Homo sapiens: one gene and its partners. The protein of the gene in region 1 interacts with the protein of each later gene in a pairwise test. Each region holds a gene or a part of one and is shown in the gene's direction. Other genes may lie near its edges. The genes, in order: SLC7A1, LEPROTL1, TMEM14A and TMBIM6.

Region 1 (6,849 bases):
GCATTTTATAGGTTTGTGTTTTACATTTAGGCCTATGATCTGTTTTGAGTTAATTGCTGTGTAAGATGTTAAAGTCTGTGTCTAGATTTATTTTTTGCATGTGGCGGTCCAGGTCCAGTTGTTCCAGGACCATTTGTTGAGGAGACTATCTTGTCTCCATTGACTTGTCTTAGCCACTCTGGATCAGCTATTTGTGTGGGTCTAGGCTACTGTTTGGGTTTCGATGTTTGTGCCCTCCAGACCTCATGTTGAAATTTGATCCCCAATGTTGAAGGTGGAACCTAATGGGAGGTATTTGGTTCACGGGTGTGGATCCTTCATGAAATGTCCTTCCTGGGGGTAGGTGGGACGGGGAGATGAATTTTCACTCTATTAGATGACTCTGGAGCTGGTTATTTAAAGGAACCGGGCCCTTCTCTCCTCTCCCTCTTGCTTATACTCTTGTCATGTGATCTCTGCACACACGCACACTCCCTTTCATCTTTTGCCATGAGTGGAAGCAGCCTGAAGCCCTCTCCACATGCAGATGTCCAATCTTGAACTTTCCAGCCATTAGAATTGTGAGCCAAATAAACCATTTTTTCTTTATAAATTACCCAGACTCGAGTATTCCATTATAGCAATACAAAACAAACTAAGTCTATTTCTGAGCTCTATATTCTGTTCATCTTTATACACATTTTTCATCCTTACCATGAAGTTCGTATGTATCCAGCAGGTAGTAAAATTCTTATTTCGAAAATGAGGAAACTGAGGCACAGAGTGAGCAGGGCCCCTCTCCCCAGGCCAGCAGCTGGTTAGAATTGAAACCCACATCTGCCTGGCTTTGATTCTGTGCACTTTCCTTGCCCCCAAGGTGCCTAATGGTGCTAGAAAGAGACTTAGTATGTCAACCTTAACCTTAGATGTTGCTCTCTAGGGCCTAAATTGTAGCATCTCCCTTTCTTAATGGTTGCTGGAATCTTGGGCAGCTGCTCTTTGATTGTAATCAAGGCTGCCTGTCACTCACGGTTTCTCTGAACCTGTAATGTGAGTCTTGACCTGCCTAAAAACTGGCTTTGCTTAAAACATGTAGCCCTCTTTATCAGCATCCTCTAATGTTTTGCTGAGATCTTGTGCGTAACTATTTTTTCCCTGGTTCATACTGAATCCTTTTTGCTGAGAAGTCACTTGCTCATGGGGCTTGTCTTATTGTCTTTTTGAAGACAGGACCTTGCTGAGTGGGATTGCTAAACGGAGCACAGTGCTAAAAATCTCCTGGGTTAAATGTCACCATACTCCCATCAGGGCCTGGAGCACTTGCTCTCAGAATTTACAAACATTAACTCATGTTGGCGCTCTGTGTTGCCCAAGGAGAGCATCTCTACAATTTATGAAATTCTATTTTACTGCCAGAAGTCAGCAAAGAGAAAAAGAAAGAAAGAGAGGCAGAAAGAGAAAATTCCACAGTCATATTTCAAACACCAAGGGATAGATTTTTTTCTTAAGAATATAAGATTTACAAGCTCCAAACAGGAGTGAAATAGTTTGCAGAAGCTCTCACAGCAAATGAACTGGTAGAGTTCAGATTCAAATCCTGATCTGGTGCCAAGGGCAAAGCAGGTGGTCTTTAATCCTACCAGGCTTCTCTCTGTGAGAAGGGGACATGCTTACTGTGGCCTCAGCAGACAGAGTAGGCTGCGTGGGATCTGGGAGATCTTCTGTGAATGGAAGGCATCATTTCACCACTGTGCAATTGAACTAAGATACATTGTTTTATTTATTTTTTATTGATTTTTATTATTATTTTTTTGAGACGGAGTCTCGCTCTGTCACCAGGCTGGGGCGCAGTGGTGCGATCTTGGCTCACTGCAACCGCCGCCTCCTGGGTTCAAGTGATTCTCCTGCCTCAGCCTCCCGAGTAGTTGGGACTACAGGCGTGCGCTACCACGCCCAGATCATTTTTGTATTTTCAGTAGAGACGGGGTTTCACCATGTTGGCCAGGATGGTGTCAATCTGCTGACCTCATGATCTGCCTGCCTTGCCCTCCCAAAGTGCTGGATTACAGGCGTGAGCCACCGTGACAGGCCAGATTTGTTGCTTTAAAACAAAGCATATATGGTGGCTTACTATGATGTCAAGCACTGTTCAAAGCACATTACAAAGCTGGGCAGGATGGTGCTCGCCTATATTTCCAGCTACTGGGGAAGCTAAAGTGAGGCGATCGCTTGAGCCTAGGAGTTCAAGGCTGCAGTGAGCTATGATGTTGCCACTGCACTCCAACTTGGTGACAGAGTGAGACCCACTCTCTAAAACAAAGACAAAAACACATTTTACAACTGCTAAGCCATCTGCATGTGTTCATTAAAACTTTTTCTGGGGACTTTTTCTGGCTCATCCCTGTAGTCCCGATGCTAGGGGAGGTTGAGGCAAAATGATCGCTAGACAGCTGGTATTTGAGGCCAGCCTATGCAACATATCAAAAACCCGTGTCTATATGTAGAAAAAATATTAACTAGGCGTGATGACACAAGCCTGTAGTTCCATCTGCTTGGGAGGCTGAGGCAGGAGGATGGCTTGAGCCTGGGAATTTGAAGTTCCAGTGAGCTATGATTGTACCGCTGCATTCCAGCCTGGGTGACAGAGTGAGACCCCTGTCTCTAAAAAACAAACAAATGACAACAGCAACAACAACAGAACACTTTTTCTGAAGCTAGCACCATGCAGTTATGTACTTTATAAATTGCTAGTCTAATTCCAAGGGAATAGTTCAGCAGCTGATATTTGAGAAGGACCTGTAGAAAGGATTCAAAGACCACGGACACCGTCCACTGTTTTTCTGTTTTCCTATAAGATAGAAGAAGGATGGCATTATTAATTTATGCCCTGTTTACCTATCCCAAGTCCCAGATCACTGGATCTTTAAAGATTATGATTCTCGCTTGGCTTTTGGTACAAAAGGAGACAAGGAGGGAGCTTAAAAGGTGAGCACGGTGTGATTCAGGACTGAAGCTTCTGCCACTTCCTGGGGGGTAACTGCAAAAGTGAGCCGTTCTGACTAGCCGTTTGTGCATTTGCCACTGCCAAGGGGGCACAGGTAGATTCAAGCTTTGGGGCTCTTCTGACAACTGGCAAGGATAAGGTATTAGCAAGGGCAAAGGAATAGTAATAAAATAATCCAATAACAAAGACATGAAGATTTATAATAATTTTTAGGCCGGTGCAGTGTTTCAGGACTGTAATCCTAGGGCGCTTTGGGAGGCCCAGGCGGGAGGATCGCTTGAGGCCAGGATTTCGAGGTTAAGGTGAACTGCGCTCCAGCCTGGGCAATAGAGTAACACCCTGTCTCTAAAATGAAAAGAAAACAGTTTAAACCTTTTAAGTGCATACCAAATCTTTTATTTTGGAGAAGGAAAACTGGTCTCGAGTTCCGTGTGAGCTCCCTGGGGCCCGCCGGGAGGGGGTTGGCACGGCCGGACCTGCAGCACTAGTTCTGGCCAGGGCGCTGTGGGATCTGCAGGGGACCACAGGATGCTGTGGCGCGGTGCGCTCAGATTGGCGGAGAAACGGCCACACGCCTACGGAGCTACTGAGAAGGCGAGCGGAGGCGCAGCCCGCCCGCCCGCCGCGGGAACCCCAGGTTGGGGCGCTGGGCGCGCGAAGACTCAGCCGCCCCGCCCACCAAGGGCGCGTCGGTCCCCGGCCGCAGCCTCTGGGCTGGCAGCCGCCGCCGCGCCGCGCTCCCATTGGTGCCCGGCGGTGACGCGGCCGAGCGGGCCGGGGCTGCCTGGTCCGGGGGCGGGCGTGGGGCGCGGGGCGCGGAGCGCGAGGGGCGGGGGCCGGGCGCACTGCTGATGAAACCTGGCGCCGGAACCCGCCAGCCCTCGGCGCCCATTCAGTCCGCGCAGGCAGGTGTGAGCAGCGGGTCAACTACCTGGCAGGCGCGCACGCGGCCGCGGGCTCCCGCTAACCGCAGCCTCCACTCCTCTCCCCGCGCGCCGCGCCCCCGCCCCGCCCCGCCCCGCCCGGTCTCGCCGGCCGAGCGTCCGTTGGTCCTTGAGCGCGTCCGACAGTCTGTCTGTTCGCGATCCTGCCGGAGCCCCGCCGCCGCCGGCTTGGTGAGTGCCCGGCCCCGCCAACGCAGGGGGCAGCTCCTTGGGCCCGGGTCATCACGGAGGGGGCCCTGGCGCCGCGTGGGGCCGCGGCAGGGCGGCGCGGGAGTGGCGAGGGCCCCCGCGCCGGGAACGCTGCCATCCTCTGGGAAGGGCCAGGACCAGGGCCGGGCGGGCCCCGGAGTGGGCGAGCGGGGCTGGTGCCCATGCGACTGTCGCCTCCACGGAGTCCATTTTGGCTCCCTGAAACCGCGGCGTGGTGCATGATGCAACACCGAGTGAGTAAGCGTGGGCGATCTGGCGATGCCCGCTCCGCGCGCCTGTCCGGGGACCCGCGCGCCGCTACGCACGGGGTGGTCGGGGTGCGTAGGCGGGCGGCGGGCACGGGGGCCAGACTGGGAGGCACACGGAGCCCGCCGGCGGCGAGGAGACCTTCCCTTACATGGCGCGGTGCAGAGCACCCCGCCCCGCCACGAGGTCCGGGGATGTGTCATCAGCCGTGGGTGGGGACTCTGCCCGGCCGCCCGGAGGGTGGTCCCGCGGCAGGTGGCCGGCCCAGGGACTCTGCTGCCATCCCCGCCCGGTGGCCGCCCTGACCTAGGGCGCCTGGCTCTCCGCTTGTCCCTAGAACCCGGGACGCGCCGCCTGCACCTCTCGTCTGGGTCCCCAAGATTGCTTTGAGGAAGTCTCCCCTAGGTGGGCTTCCTTGTGACCCAGTGTGGCCTGGAAAGGCCGGGTTCCTCAAGCCCTCCACATGGTTTGGAATGAGAGGAAGTTCTTCCGCCTTTAGCAAGACACCGTATTCTCAGGGTGTTCCTTTCTGCGTAGTAGAAAACTTCCCAGGCATGGGCAGGTCAGAGTCATTCTAAAACCTGCGCGTACACAGAGCGGCAGCTGCACTGTAGTACTACAACAGCCTGCTGGTTCAGCTCCTGACCCTTTCCAGGGGATGGGGGAACCAGACAGCAGTTGTGTTTGACTTGTGTGACTAGGATAGTCAGACATGTGCCTTCAGGAAAAAAATAAATAAATAACCTACATTTCCCAATACTCACGTCATCACCGCCATGCCCTCATGTGTTGGGTTTTAGTCCAGACATAGTTACCAGATGGTTGAGATTTCAATCCCAGGTGTATCTCCCTAAAGAATGTGCCTTTTATCTTACTTACATTCGACTAGTAGAATTGTGTATGTCGGCCTCTGGCCGAATGCCCTAATTGTATTTAATTCGAATTATAATTTATCTGGGATTTTTCCTAACATTTCTTGCCCTTTATGTTTGGTTCAGATAATAGGAAACCATGATACATTTATTCCTCTGGTATTTTTAGTTGATCTCAGTGGAAATTACCATGATTTTTATATGAACACACCCTCCTGTTATTAAAACAAAAGGTCTTATTTAAGTCACACGAACAGAATAGAAACTTAGGGGAAAGGTCAACAATAGATTAAAATGGTTTTAAAAATAGGTTTAGCATATTACGATCATGTTTAATTATTATAAAGGTAAAATTCAAAGGATGTCAAAGGAGTTTTGAGTAAAGAGGAAAGGGCTTAGTAAGTAGATCAGAAATGTACTCCCTTGTCTGGGTCTGGATCCTAGAGCCACGTGCTCCTGTACATATGATTACTTGCTTTAGGTGAAAAAAAAAAAGAAAGGCTTGAAAGACAAGACTGTTGACTTCAGGGAGTTACAATTTTCTATTTGGTAGAAGAACTCATTCTTTGATGGAATTAAATACGTGTTGATTGATTATTCTGGTCTGTAGTTTATTTTAACCAAAGTCCATACAAATAGATAATTATGTTGGAGGGCTCAGAATTATGTCCAATTAAATTAATCCTTTCTCATTATCAACCATGTATTTGGAGGGATTGCTATTAATCCTAGGGACAAATTTGAAATGTGAATAAGTGCATCCTTGTTATGGAGAAAAATATTGTTTCCCTCTAACCTTGGAGATACTTGAGTCTCGGAGTTATCTCTTCCAGAGGCATCTTCAGAGATGCCTATCACTCCACCTGCCTCTTGGTCCTCACTCCAAGCAAGACCTTCCGATAGGATGTGGTGTTTTTCTGTATAGTTGGCCCCTGCAGACCTGGATAGATTTTAAAGGCAGATCCAATAGGATTGGCCGGTGGATTCATGGAAGGACGAGAAAGGTCAAATATGACTCCAAGCACATCGGAGTTGCTGTATTAATGAGATGGGAAGGCTGAGCAAAGAACGTGTTGGATGGAAGAGGGACTTTTTGAAAGTCACAACTGACCTTTTTAGAACTCTTATCCCCAGGGTCAGGGCTGGAAGATGTATCTTCTTGGGGCCCCTCTCAGGTGCCTGCCTGTGTGTTGCAGCCACCCGTCCAGGCTGCTGGCCTCCTTCCCCTTCACCTAGCTTTACTGGCTCCTCTCGCCAAATCTGGGGGGTCTCTTCAGCCTCTGTCTCCTTGCTGCCCATGGCCTCCCTTTGCTCCCCTGCCGCCTTCTAGTGGGCCGCCTGGTGGTGGACTTGTCCTGTGGGATGGAGACCCTCCATACATGGGGTTCAAAGGTCCTGGGGTATTCCTGGATCTTCAGGACATCTGCCTACCCTCAGGTTTCCCAGGCCTCGGGTGGGGAGGCATCAGATCCCTGGCCAACCTGCTATCCACCCCAGGGTTTAGACCTCTCTTCCCGTGAGGGAACAGAGTAGTAGCTTCATTTGTGGCAGATTATCTGCCTTGTGATAAACTTTAGTGGCCTCCCTTTCTGTT
Region 2 (7,472 bases), on another chromosome or scaffold:
TGGCTCACAGATTCCGTGTAAACAGCGTGTATTTCCATGGCATATGTTCAAGTGTGCCTTGTGGTTTTGTTACCACATCCTTAAATGGAAACTTTTTTCATGATACAGGAAAGAGATGGTAGATCTTTCTGCACTAACTTGAACAGAAAAAAATTCTACTCTCCTACAAAACACCCATAGACTCATTTGGTGCATTAAGACTCAAGAAGTGACCTGTTTGTTGTTGTTGTTGTTGTTGTTTAAATTGTAATTCAACTCTAGAAATAGTAGAGAGAAGCGAAGTGGGTAATGCCTCAAGCTTCCCATTTGCTCTCATTTTAAAGCATATTGGAAATATCTCTTCTAAACATTCACTCCACAGTCTTACATGCCACTTTATGTTAGTCTGATGACTGAAAAAAAGTTAAAAATTCAAATCGTACGTAGCTCACCCCCACCTACTTCCTTTTAAAACCTTCAAAAGATTTTTATTGCTCAGAGAGAAAACCCAAAACTGCTTGTGTACGTCCCTACTATATAAGCATGCTGCCCCACCCCAACCTTGACCAACCCCATTGGCCACCTCTCTTTTCTCCAAGGGACCAAGCAAGTTCCTTGCTCCATTTGCTGCCAAAGCTCCTAACTCCCCACCACACATACATACATGCGCGCACGCAAACACACAAACACACAAAAACACAACACACAAAACACACACAAACACACATGCACAAACACACGCACACACACAAACATGCATACACACGCAAACGTGCACAAACACGCAAACACATGCAGGCACACACAAACACGCCCACAACACAGACACGCACGCACACAAACACACATGCACGCACAAACGCATACACAGACACGCACACAAACGCACGCACAGACAAACGCACACACACAACACCCAAACACGCACAAGGACGCACACACACGCACACACAAATACCCATGCACACGCAAACACGTACACAAACACATACACACAAACACGCACAAACACATGCATGCACACACACATGCAGGCACACACAAACACAAACACGCACACACACAAACACACGCAAACACACACACACAAACAACACACCCCGCCACCTGCGATGGCTTTTCCGTTCTCTATTAACACATTTATTCATCACTGTGTTGTCTCTCCTTGGGGGAAATTTTCCTTGGCAGATCGCAATCAAAAGTTTTCAGAGAACTATTTACCCATCTTTCCTAGTGTAGGAAAGGATAAAAACTTTCTTTACCCTCCTAGGTTCAGAAGCTGAGAACTGTGAATTAAACTAACAAAGTACAGATTACCAGGAAAAAAAAAAAGGTTTATTTTGCATGCACAAGGAGGCTTCACAGAAAAGAAGTGAAAACTCAAAAAGTAATTAGGCCTGGGAGCATGTATCATTTTAACAAAGGGTGATGCATTGTGGAAAAGTAGACAAAGGAAAGGTTTTGGACTTCTAGGGGCAGTAGATTTTAAGAAGGTAAATATATAGGGGAAAACTAATGAAAGATAAGGGCTATTTTAGTAATGTTTTCACAGACTCCAATAAATGCTGTTTACTGGGGCATAGGAGTTGCATCCTCTCCCTGGTCTGGGAAATGTAAATATTTATAAGTAGAAAAATTTGTTTACACATTTTTTGGGGGCCAGGCGCAGTGGCTCACACCTGTAATTTCAGCACTCTGGGAGGCCCAGGTGGGCCGATCACTTGAAGCCAGGAGTTCAAGACCAGCCTGGCCAACATGGTGAAACCCTGTCTCTACCTAAAAATACAAAAATTAGCCAGGCATTGTGGCTCATGACTGTAATCCCAGCTACTTGGGAGGCTGAGGCAGGAAAATCACTTTAACCAAGAGGCAGAGGTTGCAGTGGGCTGAGATCACACCACTGCACTCCAGCCTGGGCGATAGAGCAAGACTGAAAGTTAGCTGGGCGTAGTGGCGCGTGCCTGTAGTCTCAGCTACTTGGGAGGCTGAGGCAAGAGAATCGCTTGAACCCAGGAAGCGGAAGTTGCAGTCAGCCGAGATCATACCACTGCACTCCAGCCTGGCCACAGAGCGAGACTCCGTTTCAAAAGAAAAACAAAACAAAACAAAAAGTGGAACTTTATGTTATCTTTACAAAGGGAACTTAAGCACGGCCTTTGGGTAGAAAAGGAGAGAGCAGAGAGCTCCTCCTATGCCTGTTGCTTCTTATTTGCTTTCAGCTCAAAACAATCCTTAGCCTTATTTTCACTCGTGTCCGTGTGAAGAGACCATCAAACAGGCTTTGTGTGAGCAACAAGGCTGGTTATTTCCCCTGGGTGCAGGTGGGCTGAGTCCGAAAAGAGAGTCAGCGAAGGGAGATAGGGGTGGGGCCATTTTATAGGATTTGGGTAGGTAAAGTAAAATTACAGTCAAAGGGGGTTGTTCTCTGGCAGGCAGGGGCTGGGGTCACCAGGTGCTCAGTGAGGAAGCTTTTGAGCCAGCATGAGCCAGGAGAAGGAATTTCACAAGGTAATGTCATCAGTTAAGGCAGGAACCGGCCATCTGGATGTGTACGTGCAGGTCACAGGGGATATGATGGCTTAGCTTGGGCTCAGAGGCCTGACATTTATTTGTTTGTTTGGAGACAGAGTCTTGCTTTGTTGCCCAGGCAGTGGCACAATCAGAGCTCACTGCAGCCTCGACCTCCTAGGCTCAAGCAATCCTCCTACTTCAGCCTCCCAAGTAGCTGGAACTACAGGCACACACCAAGCCTGGCTAATTTTTTTTTCGTTTTTGTAGAGATGGAGTCTCACTATGTTGCCAGGGCTGGTCTTCAACTCCTGGGCCAAAGCGATCCTCCTGTCTTAGCCTCCCAATGTGCTGGGATCACATGCCTGAGTCACCACACCAGACTTCAAAGTGGCATATTTTAGAGTGACATATTCTGATCCCCTTTACTAGCAATTATCATTATTGCAATTTTACATTTTTTGTGTGTCTGTCTTCCTCACCAGTCTGCAAACAGTACCTGGTTTTGCACATCTCAGCGTCTAACCCTGTGCCTAACACATAGTAAATGTTCTATAAATAATTGTAGGATGTGTAAATAAAGGTGTTGAACCTGGGCTTTCACTTTTTTTTCCTTGCCTTGTTACTACCAAAAAGACAGCCACCCAAGGGACTGGATTTCTATTAAATCCACCCTTTACTGAGCCCTGCTGCTCCTATCTCTGGAGGTGGGTCCTCACCAGAACCCTAGTCCTGTATAGGAAACCAAGGAGCCAAGTGCAGACCACCCAACTAACCTTAATTATAGGACTGGGGATGGAGGGATGGAGGGAGAGAGGAAAAGGCGCAGTAAAATAATGTGCGCAGTGGCTCACACCTGTTGTCGTAACCGAGCGAGTTATAGAGAAACACCACACTTTGAGACTAATTCAGGAGTCCTTTATTGCCGGCGACCGAGAGACGACTACAGCTCAAAATTCTCTCGGCCCTGAAGAAGGGGCTAGATTTCTTTTTATACCTTGGTCTAAATAGGGAAGGGGTAGTCTAGCTGAAGCAATTTTTACAGAAGCAGAACAGGCAAAGAGTTAAAAGATAAATGGTTATAGAAACAGTTACAGGAAAATAAACAGTTCCAGGTGCATGGGGCTTAAATTATCACAAAGAGATAAACGCAGGGGCTTTGGGTACCATCAACCGAGCGCGTTCCCAGGAGCTGCTGGTACAGCTTGCCTCAGTATCTTATCAGTAAGCACATTCCTGGATGTGCTTGGTGTCAGTCTGCACCAGTTATGTCCTTAAGGGAGGGGGACAAGGTGCTGCAAGCGAAGAAACCAAAATGGAGTCTGTCCCGCTCTCTCAGCTAAGAGCGAGTCAATCAGGTTAAAACAAGGTAGGGTATCAAGCTGTAATCCCAGCGCTTTGGGAGGCCGAGGAGGGCAGATCCTTGAGCTCAGGAGACCAGCTTGGGCAACAAGATGAGAGTCTCACACCCCGCCCTGTCTCTACAAAAAACAAAACAAAACAAAACAAAAAAAAGCCAGGCATGGTGGCTCATGTCTGTGGTCCCAGTTACTGCGAGGCCGACGTGAGAGAATCACTTGAGCCCTGGAGATCGAGGCTGCAGTAGCCGTGATCACACTCCAGCCTGGGCGAAAGAGACCCTGTCTCAAAAAACAAACAAAACAATGTGAAATTAAGCCAAAAGCCATCACACGTGCATCCAAAGGACGGCCGCTACCCGCGACCCCTTCCCAACGCACGCGGGAGGTTGCGGGATCAGGGACAGGGGCTTCAGCAGGGAGCCCCCAGACCGGCCCTGACAGGAATTCAAGACCTGGCGCCTGCTCATTCCCCCAGTCGGGGCGGCGGCGGCAAGCCTCGGCCGGCGGCGATCTGCACACCCGCGGAGAAGAGAGGCAGGGGGTCGACCCCACAGCCCAGCCCGGCGCGTCCCCCGCGCCCCCGCGCGAGCCCGAGTCGCCGGCGGAAGTGCTGCGTCGCGCACTTCCGGGTGTTGTCTGGCCGCCGTAGCGCGTCTTGGGTCTCCCGGCTGCCGCTGCTGCCGCCGCCGCCTCGGGTCGTGGAGCCAGGAGCGACGTCACCGCCATGGCAGGCATCAAAGGTGGGCCTGGGTTGCAGGACGCGGGAGGGCTGGGGCCGGCGGGGGAAGATGGGCCGGGGGTCCCACGCGGCCCCCGCACTTCCCCTCCGGGCTCGCGCGCGCGCGTGGGGTCCCTGCGCCGGGGAAGCGACCCCCGCCCCGGCCCTGCGCTTGGCCCGGAGGTGGGCGCGGCGCCCTCGGGCAACGGACGGTTGCGACCCCGGCTTCGCCCCGCAGCCCCCACTTTCTGCCGATTTCGGCAGCCTCTCTCCCACCCATCGCCCCCCGGACAAAATATGAAGTGGTTGGCGGTCAGTGAGGAGTCCCGTCGCGACTTGGACGGCCACACACGTTTTGCAGGAGTTTGCATCCGAGAGAGAGGCAGGCAGAGCGTGGGATTGAGAAGGCTGAGGCTGCTAGAGATGCCAGCTATGGAAAACCAGTCATTTCCCACCGAAAGGCACAAGTGCGGTCTGCGGGCGCTGCACGGGTCTGCCCGAAACCTCGACCCCACGTCCACCCCGGCCGCCCGCGCCCGAGGCTTTACAGGCTCCCGAAACGGGTGCATTTTCATCTGCGGTGTCTGGACCCTAGAGTTGATCCTGTAGGCGACCCCAAAGTGCTCCTGGCTCTCTTCCCTCTCCGCAGTTGCACCCTGAGGCTTTTTCAAATTTCAAAATTTTTCTTTTTTTCCTTTTTTTTTTTTAAGAAGATAAAATACTGGTACAACTTAATGAAAAACTACTGGCTTATTCATGTATTTTCTTTTAAAAAAAGGAATGTTGCATTTGTTCCACCTGTTAGGTAGTTTTGTTGTCAGTGTGATGAGAAGCAAAGTTTTCAGCTACTGCTTAACTAATTACATTGATTTCTTGACCTGCCGCTCTGTAGAAGGGCAGTCAGGCAGGAAGCAGGTAACTTTGGGAGCAGTGGTTTTCTTTGTATTTTTTCTTCTCTAAGGAAAACTTAATCGAGTTTTTTTTCAGGGTCACAGTCTTACTGTTTCTTGTTTATTTTCAATGTCTGAAAACATTTCATTTCCCATATAAAACCTTGTCATTTAAGCAACTGGGATACTTTGTAATCTCCTTTTGAACTATGATAGACTCTAAACCCTTATGTGAAAGGCAGTTATTGTGAATTGCTGTGGTTTTTAGGATGTTGCCCGTTTCCCTGTTCTTCCCTGTTTCTTCAGTGTCAATAATGCGGGGGTCTCTTAAGAAAATAGCTTTGTAATTTACTTCTCCAGACCTAGGGAAATACTGCATTAAACTGATGAAGGTGCCTCAGGTGAACTGCACTTTTGATTTCAGCAGGATTTTCTGGTTGTTATGAGTCAGTATGTTTCTTTCTCTTGGCCTAATATCTTTATATTAGGAAGGAGTGTTGCTGTAATTAGAGACCATTAGGCATTGCTTGAGCCATTTGTCTATTACTTTTTGATATATTGGATTTTCTGGTAACTCCCAGGTTAGAGAAGTGGTCCCTCCTTCTACTCTAATTTCTTTGTAATCACAGAATCAGCATCTTGTCTCTAGAGAGTTTTGCTAGATAATTGGGCTGCTCCATGCCTAGCCTAGAGGCTTTGGGAGTAGAACCCAGACTTATCTAAGCTTTGTCTTCCAAATGTTGCATCACTCAATTACTGTATGAATTCTTGCCTTGTTGATGTGTCATTTAAGAAACAGCTTATATACAAATGATGAAGTGTATATATAAATCTTCCTAGTTGCCAATTTCATAAGATTGAAGAAACTGCAAGTTTTGAGAACACTTTTAAGCAATTTATTTAACCTCTAATTGGCTACCTTATTCGGTATGACTGGAAGATGAGATGTCACATCAAACTGTGTTATGAATATTTAAAAAAAATTTAGTATTTAATCCTGGCGCGGTGGCTCACACCTGTAATCCCAGCACTTTGGGAGGCCGAGACGGATGGATCATGAGGTCAGGAGTTCAAGACCAACCTGTCCAAGATGGTGAAACCCCATCTCTACTAAAAATACAAAAAAATTAGCTGGGCATGGTGGCAGGCACCTGTAATCCCAGCTACTCAGGAGGCTGAGGCAGGGAATTGCTTGAACCCGGGAGGCAGAGGTTGCAGTGAGCCAAGATTACGCCACTGCACTCCAGCCTGGGCAACAGAGTGAGACTCTGTCTCAAAAAAAAAAAAAATATATATATATATACACACACACACACACACACACACACACATATTTAGTATTTAATGGAGTAGAAGTATTATCTCAAGGTATCTTGATTCCCCCAAACAAATGTTATTCCAGTATTCATATTCATAGCACTTACAATAAGACAATCTTGGTTTATGTTTTTAAAATTGTTTTTTGATACCTGAGCCTTATCTCATTTTAGTCCCTTGGTTTTTTTTTTTTTTTAAGGAATCATTTTTCATTAACTTTGTAAGAGTGTAATCAAAGAATTTAGGCCTTCTTTTTTGATAAAAACTTGAATGACTGTTCTCTGTCACAGAACAGCCACCTTCAGAGGCCCTCATGGTCCTAAGGTGGCTTGCCTCTTGCGGAGATTACCGTGAACATGCTTTTTGAGATTTTTCTGCCTGGTTTAAATTTTTTTTGTTGTTTCCTCCCTCCTGTCAAAGGGCAATTCTTGCTTGTATGCAACTCTTTCTCCTAATTCCCATTTGTTTCAGTGTGGGAAGATAAACTTAGAAAATTTTGTGTCACAAGGTATATAGGTAATAGTGATTACTTTTGATAAGAGAAAGTTCCTTTTCACTTAATTTTTGTTCTGGGTATATGAATTACCTATTGAAAAATATATATAAGTGAGCATAGATGATTCTTTAAAATAAAAATGTGTTTTACTCTGAATTCCCATCTAACAATTGTGTCACGAAAATGAGTTAGTATAAATAAGA
Region 3 (7,620 bases), on another chromosome or scaffold:
GAAGGTAAGGGAGTACTTTGGTGAGTTTGGGGAGGTGAATTTCTCCCCAGGATATGGTTTATGCTCCCCACCAGCCACCAGTGGATGCTTTTTTCTGTTTTCCTTGGCTGGTGGAGTTGTCAGTGGAGCTGCTCTCACCTCCTTTCTTGCCTTTGGAGGGCCGCCTTTTCTGAGTTCCCTTTAGGGCCTGAGCCAGGGGAAGGCATTGGCCCTGAGCTTTGCCTGTGTTTCCAGATGGAGGCCATTGAACTTTCAGTGGATCCAAAGTCTAACAAAAGACAATGTCTTGTTTTCGTCACCCCCCAAAGAAGAGGAACCTGTGAGAAATATTCTGGAGAAATTTAACACCATCAGTGGAAGCAAGGTGAGGAGTCTCTACCTCCATGTGCCTCCCCTCCTGCCTCTGGAGAGGTAGCCCTTTGGTTAATGGCAACCCAATAGGGTAACCAACCATCCCATTTTAGCATTGAGAGCATTGTGTCCTGGGAGACCCTTCCCTGGAATGTAAATAATCCTGGTTTTAGCAACAAAGTGTGGAAGGTTGGAGGAAATGCACAAAACCCGTAAGTTTTAGAGGGTCTGAAAGCAACATTGTCTATCAAATGGATACGGCACAGATTATTCATCTTTACTTGTTGTCACCCATTTGACCACTGATACTGGCAACCATAATTTGTAGTTCAGAATGGTCATCCATCCATCGTTGCATCATTCAAAGTGATGTGGCTTAAGTGTATATAATGATTATTAATAGTTCATCTTCGACTTTGCCTGTGGATTAATTGGTGTGCTTTGTAACAAGATAGTGCTAGTTTAATTTTTTAACATTGTGAATATTGTGACCATGTTTTCTAAGAGGTCAGATAATGAGAATGGTTATAATACCAATGCAACCATGACCCCATCACTGAAGAAGAAGGCTAAACGACTATGTAATTTTGATGATGGATGGAAGGACACATACTACTGAACTAGGAAGGTAAATAACCAAAACAGAGCATACTACATAATATACAGAAAAAAATTTGAGATTGGACATGGTGGAGAAGGGGATGTGCAAGCACATATGGAGGGCAAATCTCACAAGTAAGATGGGACAGGTGAATGCTTCTAAACCAATCAAAAATACCTTTGTTTCCCCAAAAGACACCAATGCTCAGTCAAAAATAGCAGCTGCTGAATTAGCATGGGCATACCAGGCAAATAAGCCTGCATTGTCATAGCGTTCCCTTGATTGCTCTATGAAACTGAGTAAAGTTTCATTTCCTGATTCAAGAATTGCAGCTAAAATATCCTCTGGACAAAGAAGAAGGGAAATTTTTTGATAACAGATGTGTTGGCTCCTTACAGTATAAAGCCAATTTCTGTCATATCTCACCAACAATCCTGGTTTCTACAGTACATCAATTTTAAGTAATATGCCAAATCATGGCAGCAAAAATATGTTCCCTCTAGCTGTTAGGTACTTTGACTTGAAAACAGGAGTTTCAAATCATCTTCTTCATTTCTGTGAGGATTTTAATGAAACTGCTGAAATCATAAAATATTGTTGATATTTTGTCTAAATACAAACTAGACTTAGCTCATCTATCTGTGTATTCGTCAGACAGTATAGATGTAAAATTTTGGCAAATTGCATTCAGTCTACAAACTTCTTACCAAAGAAAATGAAAAGATCTTATCCATTCAATGCCTTGTACATCTTATATACAACACTGCTAAAAAGGGATGTGAGTTGCTTAAATGTGACATTGAGACTTTCATAATGAAAGCTTTTGGTTACTTTTCAATTTCCTCAAAAAGTGCAAAAGCACTTATGGAGATTTTTGACTTCACAGAAATGGAAGGTAACCTCTTTAGACGTGTGCCTGCAAGATGGCTGTCATTGTAAGTGAGCCATAGAAACGATGCTAAAATGTTGGCCTGCCATAAGATCATATTTTCAAAGGACAAGAATAATGTCCTTTGACATTGTTTGAAATCTGAAAGGAGAAAAAAATCAAGAATCTGAAGTGGGCCTTAAAAAAATCAGTAAGTCCCTTGTGACTCTGATTTTTATGAATCTGTCTCTCAAAAGCCAGGGTGCCCCCAGAAGAACTGAGACAAACTGAGTTTCTGAACATTTGAAAATGAGGAGCAGGCTCAGGATCCACAGGGTGTAACCATCCCGTGAGGCCCTGCCTGAGCAGCCAGCCAGTCAGTGAGGCTCTTCACCTTACTTCCATTTCTCTGATTCCATCTATGTACAACTTACGAAAACTTGCATTATTATAGACTGGGAGTTCTTAAATTGGAATCTGTGAATCTAAAGGGGCCAGAGGATAGAAATCAGGAAATCTGAAAACTTCGATGGAAAAAAGTTTTTATTTATTTCCATCAGGAAAATAGGCAACAAACCACAGCAGTATTAGTACCTGTGTCTCTGTCATCACTAGGAATCACAGATATCCACGTTACAGATATCTTAAAATATTTATGTACAGCACCACTCTGAAATTATGGTAATAATTAGATCCACCCCCTAGGTCTTGTAATCTTTAATATGTTAATAAAGAAGCACATCTATTATGTGACAGATTTAAATGTTTAAGAATTTGATTTCAATGAAATTGCATTTCAATAAAATTGGCTTCCTTTGCAATCCTGTGTATTTTATTTTGTGCATTTCTCCAGACTGCCAAAGAGGTTGGTGACACATTGAAAGTTAAGAGTCTCTGCTGTGGATCATGCATAGAAAGCTTTACAAAACAGTTGAGGGGAATAGGCTTTCCTGCATCCTTACCTTGGGCTGCAGCCTTTCCATTAGCTGGAGAAGGCAGCAGCTGGTGCCTATGAGTTGAGAGGGCAGTGGTCCCTTTGCCTAAGAACCATCCTGTTCCCACATATTCAAGGGTATGGAATTCCCATAATATTCAAAGAGTTTTTCTTTAGTTTTAGGTGATACGCCTTGAGTAGGAATATCATGAGGCTGTTTCCAGCTTCGAGTATGTTGGTGATAGGGTGTAAGGGATCTCAGAGCATCTAGTCTTGTCCATATCTTAAATCCAGGCACTGAGGTCCAGAGGGGAGTTATTTACCCAGGTCACATCAGATGAAGATAATGAAGTATTCCAAGAGGATTTTAGTTTTATTCCAAATAGGGTAAGTGTTCTGAGAGTGTGAGGAGAGAAGGTGAGGAGGCTGGGGTAAGGATGGGCATAGAAGGGGATGGAAAGGAGGGCTGAGAGAACTCAGAACCAAATTTCAGGCTATCACTTTCTCCACGCCACATTCCAGTGCCTTGCCATCAACTCTTCTGTGAATCTTCAGGAATTTTATTAATTCCCCAGGACCAACTTAGACTTTCATAAGTTAGATGTAGTTATATTACTTCCCTGAAGCACTTTTATGCACAAAGAATAGATGTAGCAAACAAACTTCACAAGATTTAATTTTTGAGTTTCCTTTTTTATTCTGAGGAATTCCGCTGTAATTCTCAGTGACACAGAACCTCTAGAGCTACTTCACTATGACAACCTTCTTCAAATCTCCAAAGGGCTGTTACATAAGGAAGAGGGTCGGAGTTCTGTATTCAATCAAGAAGGCAGAAGATTGAGATGATAAGTTGCTACAGGGAGGCATAATTTAAAGTCAATTTAAACTGTAATCCCAGCACTTTGGGAGGCAGAGGCGGGAGGATTGCTTTGAGCTCAGGAATTCAAGACCATCCTGGGCAACACAGTGAAACCCCGTCTCTACAAAAAAAAAATAGTCGGGTGAGGTGGCACACACCTGTAATCCCAGCTACTTGGGAGGTTGAGGCTGGAGAATCGCTTGAACCCAGGAGGCAGGAGGCAGAGGTTGCAGTGAGACGGGATGGTGCCACTGCACTCCAGCCTGGGCGACCGACTGAGATCCTGTATTTAAAAAAAAAATAAGGTCAGTTTAAGTTTCGTTCCTGGGATTGAGCGGATTGCCTTGCATTAGGCAAGGTTTTAAGTGCTTTCCAACTCTGGAATTCTATACCTTTCCCAGTAGATATCTAAACCCAGCAAATCCTGGGCCTGAAGTTTAAAACTAGGATCCTCGTCTCCCAACCACATCTAGATGATCCCATAGTGTAATGAAGGGTGCTTGGGCTTTGACACCAGGCAAACTTGGATTTTGACCTGGGACAACTAAGTCACTTGACCTCACTGAACCTTAGCTCCCTCCACTGACAGTGGGGACAGTCTGCTGGAGGGTGTGTAGAAGACCTCGGGTTGCCTTTTGGAGGTTCTGGAAATGTCCCTTGAAAGATGAATGGAGTTAATTTAAAAATCTTCGCCTTCTGTAATTTTGGCTTCTTGCAAACACGCTTCCTGCCAGTCCTGCTCCGTCAGGCGGGAGGCAGCAAACCCCAGCCCTGGCTCCAGGACAGGGCCGAAGGCAGGATAGACGGAGCAACGGGTCCGGCTGCCGCCGGGATGTTGCAGCACAGGGCCTCCTGGCTGCCTGGCCTACAGGCCGCCCGGATTCAGCCGGAGGGCATGGACCGGGTGGAGTCCTGCAAGGCGAGAAGGGACACAGCGCATGCGCGCGGCAGGGAGGGCGTTTCCAGGAGGGAGCGGCCTTTGCTCAGCGCGAGACGGCTGGGCGCCGAGTGGGACAGCGCTGGTGCGGAGACTGCTTCCGGACTCCAGGTACCGCGCTTGGCGGCAGCTGGCCCCAGACTTCTGTCTTTTCAGCTGCAGTGAAGGCTCGGGGCTGCAGGTGAGCTGTGCATCCCGCAATGGAGACCTTCCTGCTCTGAATTTTCTTACAAAACTGCAGAAATATAAGGGGCGTTGCTTAGCGGGCATCCCCTCCCCCGCGCCAAACCTGTACAGCAAACGATGATGCAGAGGACCTTGAGGGGATTTTGCAGGGCATCGGTCTTACCTCCGCGGTATCATTTTTCTCCTCCTCCCGAGTTTCTGCCTTCTGGTATCCCTAAATATCCCACCTATCCTGCCTCCTACCTTCCTGGATCTGGGGTGGTGGGGTGGGCTCATGGACCATTGCAAAATGCTTGGCAGGATTTTAACCTTCTCAGCACCACCCAGACCCCACTCGAAAATGTGCCTTTTGTGCCCTCCAAGAGCTCAAGGGTAGGTAATTGTTATATCTTTAGCATGTGAAAATGCTTTTTATGTAACAGTTCACCGAAAATCTCTTAATTCTCCGAATTTTGGAGGATTTGGGGCGGGCAGCGAGGCTGTCCCCTGTCACCTTGTTTTGTACCTGGTATGGTAAATCGTTTTGCTGCATTGCATCCAAGATGCGTTTTAGTCCTTCCAAGGCTTGAGCATCACATTTGTGATGAGAGCGTGTGATGTGCTGTGCACATCCTCTCCCACCTTATCCCTTCCATGTTAACACAGCCTCTGGCTTTAATGTGTGCTTCTGGCCTGGCCACATGGCTCCGTCATGGAATAGGTGATTCTTTTGTCTGAATATTCTCTGTGAGAACAGAATCTTCTTGCAAGCATTGGGAGTAGATTTATTTTGCCTCTTTAGAACAACAGTCAGTTCGCTAAGGAGATTAAGGGGCTACCTGTTTCCTGGCAATAAAGCTGTATTGGGTAGGTCAGTTACAGAATGTCTTCAGGCAGAAGCTGTTCCTTTGGTTCACTCACTCATTTATTCATTTAACAAGTATTTTAAGTACCTGCCTTGTGCATGGCAGGGTTCTTGGTGCTGTGAGGAGGACAAAGATAAACTGAACCTTGGTTTGCCCTCAAGGAGCTTGGCTGGCTGAGAGTTGAGAGAATCCCAACCAAGTAAAAGGGTATGGGTCCTCAAGAGAAGATCGCAGGAAGAGCTGGGGGGCTCAGGATGGAGTGGAATTAATCTTTCACAACAGCTACTTAGCTTTAGGAGAAAATTAGGTCTAGAAGTTACACCTGATAATGAAAGAACTCTCATAAGCTTCAGATCTGTATGTAAGGGTGTTTTCCGGACTGTGTGTTGGGCGTCTCAGACTGAATACATTCTAAACAGGTCCCATCATTCCTAGCCACCTCCCTCTTCCCACCGCCACACACCTGCTGCTGTTCCCATGTTCTCTGTCTCAGGGAATAGCATGAGGCTCCCCGACTCCCTACTTCTCCTAATGGTCTAAGCCAGATACCTAGGGGTGAGTCATCTCTGATTCACCCCTGACTTTCCCTTCCCGCCTCAAATTCAATTCTGATTCTACCTCCTGAACTTCTGAAATCTGTCCACCTTCTCTCCATTCTCATTGCCATTTCTCTAGATAAGCCTACCGTTATCAACTAAGCTCTTGCTTACTTTACTGCAACAGCTTCCCGATTTATCTCCCTGCCTCACTTCACAACCCATCTTCACTACTGCAACTGGGAAGTGCTTGCTGGAATTTAAATCTGATTGTGAGGCTCCCTTCAGTGATCCTTCATTGCCCTTAGGACGGAACCAGACTCCCTTTACGGGGCTTATGTGGGTGTACAGCCCTGTCTTTCTCACCAGCACCCTCTCTTTTCACAAGCCCCTTGCACTTTTCATTTTGAGAACATGCTTTCTTGTGCCATTAGGGCCTTGCACATGCGCTCCCTTCTGCCAGGAACACCCTTCCCTGCACCCTCTTCACTTGACTTATTCATGCTCCCCTGTAGGGTAAATGCACCTGACAGCAATAATTAAAGCATACCCTTAGAATGACCCTGTGTGGCAGATGAACCTGAATGTGTTTTCTGAACTAGGGAACCCAGGCCTGCCCAACCCAGAGATTTATTTCTTGTCTATGAAGAACATCTGAGCCCCTGCCCCACCTGTCCCATAGAACAGGGGCCATACGGGGAATTGAGGCCTTGAATTTTGAGTTAAATCAAGTTGCCAGGTAGAGGTCATTGAGGGGAGGGTGTTAAGTGAAAATGCTGCATAAATTGCATGATGTTTGCAAGCGGTTGTTTTCCTGCCCAGCTCACCACCACTGGACTCCCTCCTCTGTTTGTAAGCCCCTAATGGGTCTCTTTTGGCCTCTTGAACCTGTTGCCTTCCTTATTGAGGTTAATAGGGGTTTGGCACAACATCTCTCCAAGGTCCCAGCTGGGACCCTGTTTGATCTGGGCATCCTTAGGCTCCCAGTCCTTGCTGGGTGCCACTCCTTGTTATGGTACCCACACCTCTCCTCTTAGGGCTCATTCACACATCTGCCTCCTACAGCTGTGTTGTACTATAGTTCCTGGAGGACCAAGGCCATGTCTTAGCACTTACCATTGCTTCCTGCTGCCTTGCCTAAAGAAAATGCTAAATAAATAGCTGTTAAGTCGAATTGACTACAAATATATGTTATAATACTATGGTATGATTCATTAACTAAATTACAAATTCACCCTACCTCAGTTTTCTCAGTGTGCTGAAATAGTAATAGCCTTACACATGTCAAGCTTAAAATAGGTGTAAGGGTGAATGAGAAGAGTAATCATTGGAGCAGCTAATATTTGTTGAGTGCTCAGTATGTGCAGGCACTGTTCTAAGTGCTTTACAGTATTAAATCATTTAATTCTCAGAACAATCCTATAAGGTAGATATTTTTGTTATCCCTATTTTAAAGATGGAGAAACTGAGTTATTGAGGTTCCACAGCTAGTAAGTGGTGGTA
Region 4 (7,024 bases), on another chromosome or scaffold:
CTGAGCCAGCTGGGGAATGTTGATTTGAGGTTACAGCACTCTTGATCTGATAATAGGGTCTAAATTTGCTCTAGAGACTTTGTAGTGCTTAAATCTTGGGGATAGCTGAGCTGAACCAGATGCAAGCTCTGCCCTCAGGGTGAGAAGTTTCTGCACAATTAACTGGAATCCAAAACACGTGAAAAAGGAGCTTCACCAGTGAGGGTGAAGTGGGTATGCTGTTTGTCTTAATTTATGTGTGCTCCCCATTTGGGCTAAATATGGTGTTATTAGGGAGGGATTACTGGTTTATACTGGAAGAAGATTATGTATTTAGGATTTTGGGGCCTTCTTAGGATTCAGTATCTGTCAAACGTTATAGAGAGGGAGATGAAGTAGTGTCAACGTTTGGTACAAAAAATAATTTACTGAAGGCAGTAGGCATTTCATCTCCAGTTACTGGTTTGGTTTTGAGGCAGCCCCCTGGAGGAGATGGATTCAGTATTAGCTAATCCAGGGATTTGGGTCCAAGTTAAGGGAGAGGCGGGGACATCTAGGGTGTCCACCTGGGAAGATCAAAGCTTGGTCCTAGTTGAATGAAACAATTCCTTGGATGGTTCCGAAACTGAACTGACCTACCTCCTGGGAGTGGCAGGGAAAGCATCAAGCTTTTGCGCATTTACTTCATCAAATCCTTTACCATATCAGATTATCACTTAGTGGCTATTAGGCTGTCTCAAAATGTCCATGGCCCTGTGGGACAAGAGAGATAGTATAAATGTGCTAGAAGAAAGGTATGCCATTTAAACAAAAGTACAGACGGGCCCCAATTTATGATGATTGGACTTAATGATTTTTTACTTTATAATGATGCAAAAGTGCTACCTGTTTGCTAGAAACTGTACTTCAGGCCAGGCATGGTGGCTCATGCCTGTAATCCCAGCACTTTGGGAGGCCGAGGTGGGCAGATCACTTGAGGTCAGGAGTTTGAGACCAGCCTGGCCAACATGGCAAAACCCTGTATCTACTTAAAATACAAAAATTAGCTGGGCATGGTGGCACACACCTGTAATCCCAGCTACTTGGGAGGCTGAGGCATGATAATCACTTGAACCCAGGAGGCAGAGGTTGCAGTGAGCTGAGATCGTGCCACTGCACTCCAGCCTGGGCAACAGAGCGAGACTCTGTCTCAAAAAAAAAAACCCAGCACATTTAGAATTTCCATCTTTTCCCAGACTAGGGATATCTGGTATGATATTTTCACATGAGATATTTAACACTTTATTATAAAGTAGGCTTTGCGTTAGATAGTTTTGCCCAACTTCAGACTAATGTAAGCGTTCTGGGCACATTTAAGGTAAGGTAGGCTAGGCTTAAGCTATAATGTTTGGTAGGTTATATGTAGTAAGTGCATAAATTACGATACTTTCAGTTTACAATGGGATTATTGGGATGTAACTTCATTGTAAATCGAGCATCTATACTTTTACCAGTAATGAGATTTTTCAAGTGCCTTTATGTTTCAGTTTATAATTTTCTTTTCTCTCTTTTTTTTTTTTTCTTTTTTGAGACAGAGTCTCACTCTGTCGCCCAGGCTGGAGTGCAGTGGTGCAATCTCGGCTCACTGCAACCTCCGCCTCCTGGGTTCAAGCCATTCTCCTGCCTCAGCCTCCCAAGTAGCTGGGATTATAGGCGCCCACCACCACGCCTGGCTAATTTTTTGTATTTTTAGTAGAGATGGGGTTTCATTGTGTTGGCTGGGCTGGTCTCGAACTCCTGACCTCAAGTGATCCGCCTGCCTCAGCCTCCCAAAGTGCTGGGATTACAGGCTAAAACTAGACTTTTAAAAGAGAATAATCTACTGAAGATATTGTAGTAATGAGTACACCAGTAATAACAATGTTAGTACACCAGTAATAACAATGGTTACCATGTATTGAACTCATTCTATGTACAAAGAGCTATTTTAAGAACTTTATTTGTATTATCTCACCTAATCTGCAACCTTAGGAAATAAGGATTGTTATGTACTAGTATTTTACACATGGTAGGTGAAACTGAAGTACAGTGAGGTTAAGTGCCAGCAGCTTGCTGCATGTCCCACTGCTAAGGAAATAACTAGGATTCAGAAGTAGCAGGCAGTCTTAACCACTATGCAGGGGACATGGTTATACAGTGTATGAACATTACTCAGTAGTAAAAACTAATGAATGGAAAGCTTTCTTGGCCAAAAACACAGAAGAAGAAGAAGAAGAAGAAAAAAAACTACTGACAAATTACTAACAGTTCTTCCCCCTCCTTTTTTTGTTTTTGTTTTTTTGAGACAGAGTCTGGCTCTGTCACCCAGGCTGGAGTGCAGTAGCGCAATCTCGGCTCACTGCAAACTCTGCCTCCTGGGTTCAAACGATTTTCCTTCCCTAGCCTCCTGAGTAGCTGGGATTACAGGCGCCCACCACCACATCTGGCTGATTTTTGTATTTTTTTACTAGAGACTGGGTGTCACCATGTTGGCCAGGTTGGTCTCGATCTCGTGACCTCAGGTGATCCACCCACTTAGGCATCCCAAAGTGCTGGGATTACAGGCATGAGCCACCGTGCCCAGCCCTTTCCCCTCTTTTAAACTATATGGGATTTTTCTTCTAAGTATCAATTTGGTCCCTTCTAGATATGTGGGAACAAGGTTCAGGATGGTTGAATTTATACAACAGGAAGAAAGAACCATGTAATTGACAAACTAATTTTTTTGTTTTAATTTTATAAAACGGTTTTGCTGTGTTGCCCAGGCTGGGGTGCAGTGACACATTTTTGCTCTGTTACCAGGCTGGAGTGAAGCAACATGATGATGGCTCACTGCAGCCTGAAATTCCTGGGCTCAAGCAATTCTCCTTCCTCAGCCTCCCAAGTAGTTGGGACAACAGGCGCACACCACCACACCCAGCTAATTTTTTAATTGTTTGCAGAGATGAGGTTTTGCTGTGTTGCCCAGGTTGGTCTGGAACTCCTGGGCTCAAGCGACCCTCCCACCTTGGCTTCCCAAAGTGCTGGGCTCACAGGTGTGAGACATTGTGCATGGCCTTTTTCCTTTTTTGTTTTTTGGAAGTGAACATAACCTTGAGACTTTATTGTCTTCATAATAAAACATAAACTGATATTTAATTAAATGTGCGAACAGTGTTTCTTTGACTTGCTGTTTTAATGTTGCTGTACACACTGAGGCAAAGTCTGTCTTGGCTCCAGCATTGCATAGAACGCATACTAAATCCACGATAGTTTTGTTTTGCATAGCTTTTGGCTACTTCAGCATGTTTCATGTTCACTGTAGCTCCTAGGTGTGTGGGAATAGGACTGAAGAGAATGGTTGTGTTTTTTTTAATTTTTAAATTTTTTTTACACGTAGTCTCGCACTGTCACCCATGGTGGAGGGCAATGGCGTGATCTCAGTTCACTGCAACCTCCGCTTCCCTGGCTCAAGCGATTCTCCTGCCTCAGCCTCCTGAGTAGCTGGGACTATAGGTGCCCGCCATCACGCCCAGCTAATTTTTGTATTTTTAGTAGAGACAGGGTTTCACCATGTTGGCCAGGCTGGTCTCCAACTCCTGACCTCATGATCTGCTTGCCTTTGCCTCCCAAAGTGCTGGGATTACAGGCGTGAGCCACCGCACCCAGCCTGTTTTTTTTTTGTTTTGTTTTGTTTTGTTTTTAATTTAAGGCTGGACCCTTGATAATAGTCTTTCATTTTAGGACAAGGGTAAGGGAGATACCTAGAACAAAACAAGGCATTTAACATGACCTAGATGTCCACTGCTAAGAATGCCTGTCTCCTCCTACCAGCCCCTGCTGTCCCTGTCTTCCCAAGCAAAAGCAGACCACAGGAATATCTAACTCAAACAATTGTGTTTACTTGAGTTTTTTCTTGGGAGAGCTATGTATTAAGCTCTTAGCTTTTTGTTTTTGCATGGCTCTGGCAGAGGAGGCTGGTCAGGGATACCACAGAATGATGACACTTCAGCAAAACTTTAGCAGTATGTGCATGACATGTTGACAGCTTCTGACAGGTTTTCCTCTCCTGGGATGAAGGCATAACAGGAGGCTCTGAATGAAATTAGAGGAATTTGGTTATGATTAACACCTGAACATTTACTTTTCAGTTACAAACGCAGTATAGGCAGATTTTCCACAACTCCAGGAGGCACTATCCACATTGTATTCTATGTAAATAACCCCTCCTCTTTATTTTAGAATTGAATTAGTAAGTAATAGGCTTAGAGGTGTGAAAGGACTGCTGTATTGAATTTTTTAGCAGCTTGTAATGTACTTTTTTTCTTTATTGTGGTAAACTATAACATTTTAATGTGTTTTTTTAAAACAAAGATTTTCATTTAACTGTGGGCTCCTCTGGAATGTTAGCGAGTTACTTGGTTAATGGTACTGAATATAATACTTCAAGCTCTTAAGAGCTGATTGCTCCTAGAATGGAAAATACTTGATATGAGAGCTGCTATTTTTGAGTTAAGTGCAACTTAATCTTGTTTGGCTGAGTTTGCATATCGGCCATTGAAATGTAGGTATCTTTTCTGAGCTTCGCTAGTTGAAGCTAAGATTGAAACTTGGTAAGTTTATTTTATCTGGCAAAACTTGTCAGAACAGTTTGATCTCATTACTTATCTGTATATTCTTGTCTATTTGGAACAGCTCTAGAGCAAACTATCATATTTCTTTGATTCTAAGACCTATGTATTCCCTCTCACATTTTAACATTTCTGAAATTGTCATCTGTACATTGTGTCATATACATTAAATGTATACAGATGCTCCTCAAGACGGGGCTGCATCTGGAAAACCCCATCATAAGTTGAAAATACCGTAAGTTGAAAATGTAAGTCCTTTTCTTTTTGTAAGTCATTTTTGTTTTTTTTTGAAACGGAGTCTCGCTGTGTTGCCCAAGCTGGAGTACAGTGGTGTGATCTCGGCTTACTGCAACCTCCACCTCCTGGATTCAAGTGATTCTCCTGCCTCAGCCTCCCAAGTAGCTGGGACTACAGGGGCGTGCCTCTATGCCCAGATAATTTTTGTATTTTTTGTAGAGACAGGGTTTCGCCGTGTTGGCCAGACTGGTCTCGAACTCCTGACGTCAAAGTGATCCACCTGCCTCGGCCTCCCAAAGTACTGGGATTACAGGCGTGAGCCACTGTGCCCAACCTGTAAGTCATTTTTGAGTCAACGATATTTTTAATTTACAATGGGTGTATCCAGATGTAAGCCATCGCAAATCAAGGAGTGTACCGAATGAGTATCAATTTCTCCCAGTGATAGGTCAACCCTGGTAAGTCAGGGACCATCTGCTTTACCAGGTTTCTTTTTTTTCTCCATAAAGCTAATAAAATTGCTGTGCCCTTTTGCGTCTATAATATTTGGTAGTTACATGTTTTGTTTTAAATTTTGAAATACTGATATTGAAAAACAGAAGTTTTAGTTATTTTTTAATGATTTCAAACCACAAGCTTCTATTAAATCAAAGTGAAATTGCCGTTTGACATCTCATCCCCCTGCCCCAACCCACACAGCCTTTGATGGTTTTGGTTTTTCCATCAACAGTTGTTAAGAGAGAACCAGAAAGAGGCAGTCAGTACCCCCTGGGAAACGTCAGAGAAGTATCTGAGAAAGGGGAGTTTCTGCCATTCTCCCCTCGAACAGATTCCGCCAAGCAGGGTCTGGTTACATGAGCATTGCCTCTTTCTTAGAATCCCCTGGGCGTTTGAGGATCCACCCCGCTCCATCCCTTACCTTTCTTTAATTCTTGTAATTGGAAGCAAGAGGTTCTTTAGCATTGCTGTTGTGAATACTGAGAAACTTGGCTCTGAAAGTTGCTTCAGTATTATTGTAAGTGCTGTCTAGGGATGTCATTAGGGGTGTTAATGGGAAACCTTAAACAAAGACACTTTCCAGGTGCTGAATTCTGCCATGCTGTAAGTGTGCTCTCTAGAGGACATAGTCATATTCATCTTGGTTATGGAAGGCTGTGGTTGGCCTTGTAACAACCTGCAATAATTGCACCATCTAGATCAAGAGGGCCCAGATCCGTGTGACTCAGAGGAGAGAGCAACAACCTTAGTAGGTTCTGCAGCTTCTCACTGTATCTGTCCTTAAGAACAGAATTAACAAAAGTTCTGAGGTGAGTAGTGATGTTAATGAGAGAAGGAAAGAAGAAACCAGAGAAAGCAAGCCAGCCATTGTGATTGTTTCATTTGTGGGAGAGAGCCTCAGGAAGCAGATGATGTTTATATCTTTCCACTGGCCCAGGATTCCTTAGGAAATTTGTTTGGGGACTGTAACTTTTATTATTACCTAGATGAATTGTTCTGAGTGTTGGGCTGGGTGCTGATTAGAGTGCTTCATTCAGTAGGTGGCGTTTCACACAACTTTATGTTTGAATCCCTTCCTCCCTGCCCCTCCTTTTCTGGTAGATTTAAAATGGATGGGCATTATGGCCCTGATAGGAGTTTGGAGGATTTATATTTAGAAGAGATGAAAGTTCTTGACTGGATCTTTAGTACTGTAGATTGAACACGTTTACTTAGGATTGCATGTGAAATAGGGGAGGGAGCAAAACTTAAGAACTTGACTTTATGGTGTTGATATGATCTAACCTGGATATAGTTCAGTTTAAAAATGCCCTTTTTGACATTGGGACAGTTGGCAAAAATCTGAATAAGGTCTGCAGATTAGAAATAGTATTGCATTAGTATTAATATCCTGATTTTGATCATTGCTTTCAGGATATACACACTGAAGTGTTTAGGAGCACTGTGTCTGTATGGTTAGGGAAAAAATATTTTTACATCTGTCTATATATTGCTATATAGAAAGAAGATGAAGCAAATGTGAAATATTAGCATTTAGGAAATCTGGGTGAAGGTTGTACAGGAATTCTTTGTACTGTTCTAACCTTTCTGTAGGAAAGGTTCTGAAACTGTCAAAAAAATACCCCCCAAAAAATCCTCCTTTCTGCATAAATTCCTTTTTTATGGAGGTAGGAACCTCTCTT

What was found.
Region 2: the proteins of SLC7A1 (region 1) and LEPROTL1 interact in binary tests that used the Homo sapiens proteins (3 or more experiments, as listed by UniProt).
Region 3: the proteins of SLC7A1 (region 1) and TMEM14A interact in binary tests that used the Homo sapiens proteins (3 or more experiments, as listed by UniProt).
Region 4: the proteins of SLC7A1 (region 1) and TMBIM6 interact in binary tests that used the Homo sapiens proteins (3 or more experiments, as listed by UniProt).

The regions. Positions count from the first base shown.
Region 1 is NC_000013.11:29,592,665-29,599,513, reverse strand, and holds the start of SLC7A1 (high affinity cationic amino acid transporter 1), read left to right. Parts: upstream 1-3,825; 5' UTR 3,826-4,098; exon of another isoform or gene 4,099-4,370; intron 4,371-6,849. UniProt on the Homo sapiens protein: High-affinity, low capacity permease involved in the transport of the cationic amino acids (arginine, lysine and ornithine) in non-hepatic tissues.
Region 2 is NC_000008.11:30,090,941-30,098,412, forward strand, and holds the start of LEPROTL1 (leptin receptor overlapping transcript-like 1), read left to right. Parts: upstream 1-4,467; 5' UTR 4,468-4,572; coding exon 4,573-4,588; intron 4,589-7,472. UniProt on the Homo sapiens protein: Negatively regulates growth hormone (GH) receptor cell surface expression in liver. May play a role in liver resistance to GH during periods of reduced nutrient availability.
Region 3 is NC_000006.12:52,666,515-52,674,134, forward strand, and holds the start of TMEM14A (transmembrane protein 14A), read left to right. Parts: upstream 1-4,598; 5' UTR 4,599-4,731; intron 4,732-7,620. UniProt on the Homo sapiens protein: Inhibits apoptosis via negative regulation of the mitochondrial outer membrane permeabilization involved in apoptotic signaling pathway.
Region 4 is NC_000012.12:49,744,555-49,751,578, forward strand, and holds part of TMBIM6 (bax inhibitor 1), read left to right. Parts: intron 1-6,053; exon of another isoform or gene 6,054-6,151; intron 6,152-7,024. UniProt on the Homo sapiens protein: Endoplasmic reticulum (ER)-resident protein that confers cellular protection as an anti-apoptotic protein by limiting multiple stress-inducing pathways surrounding the endoplasmic reticulum and mitochondria.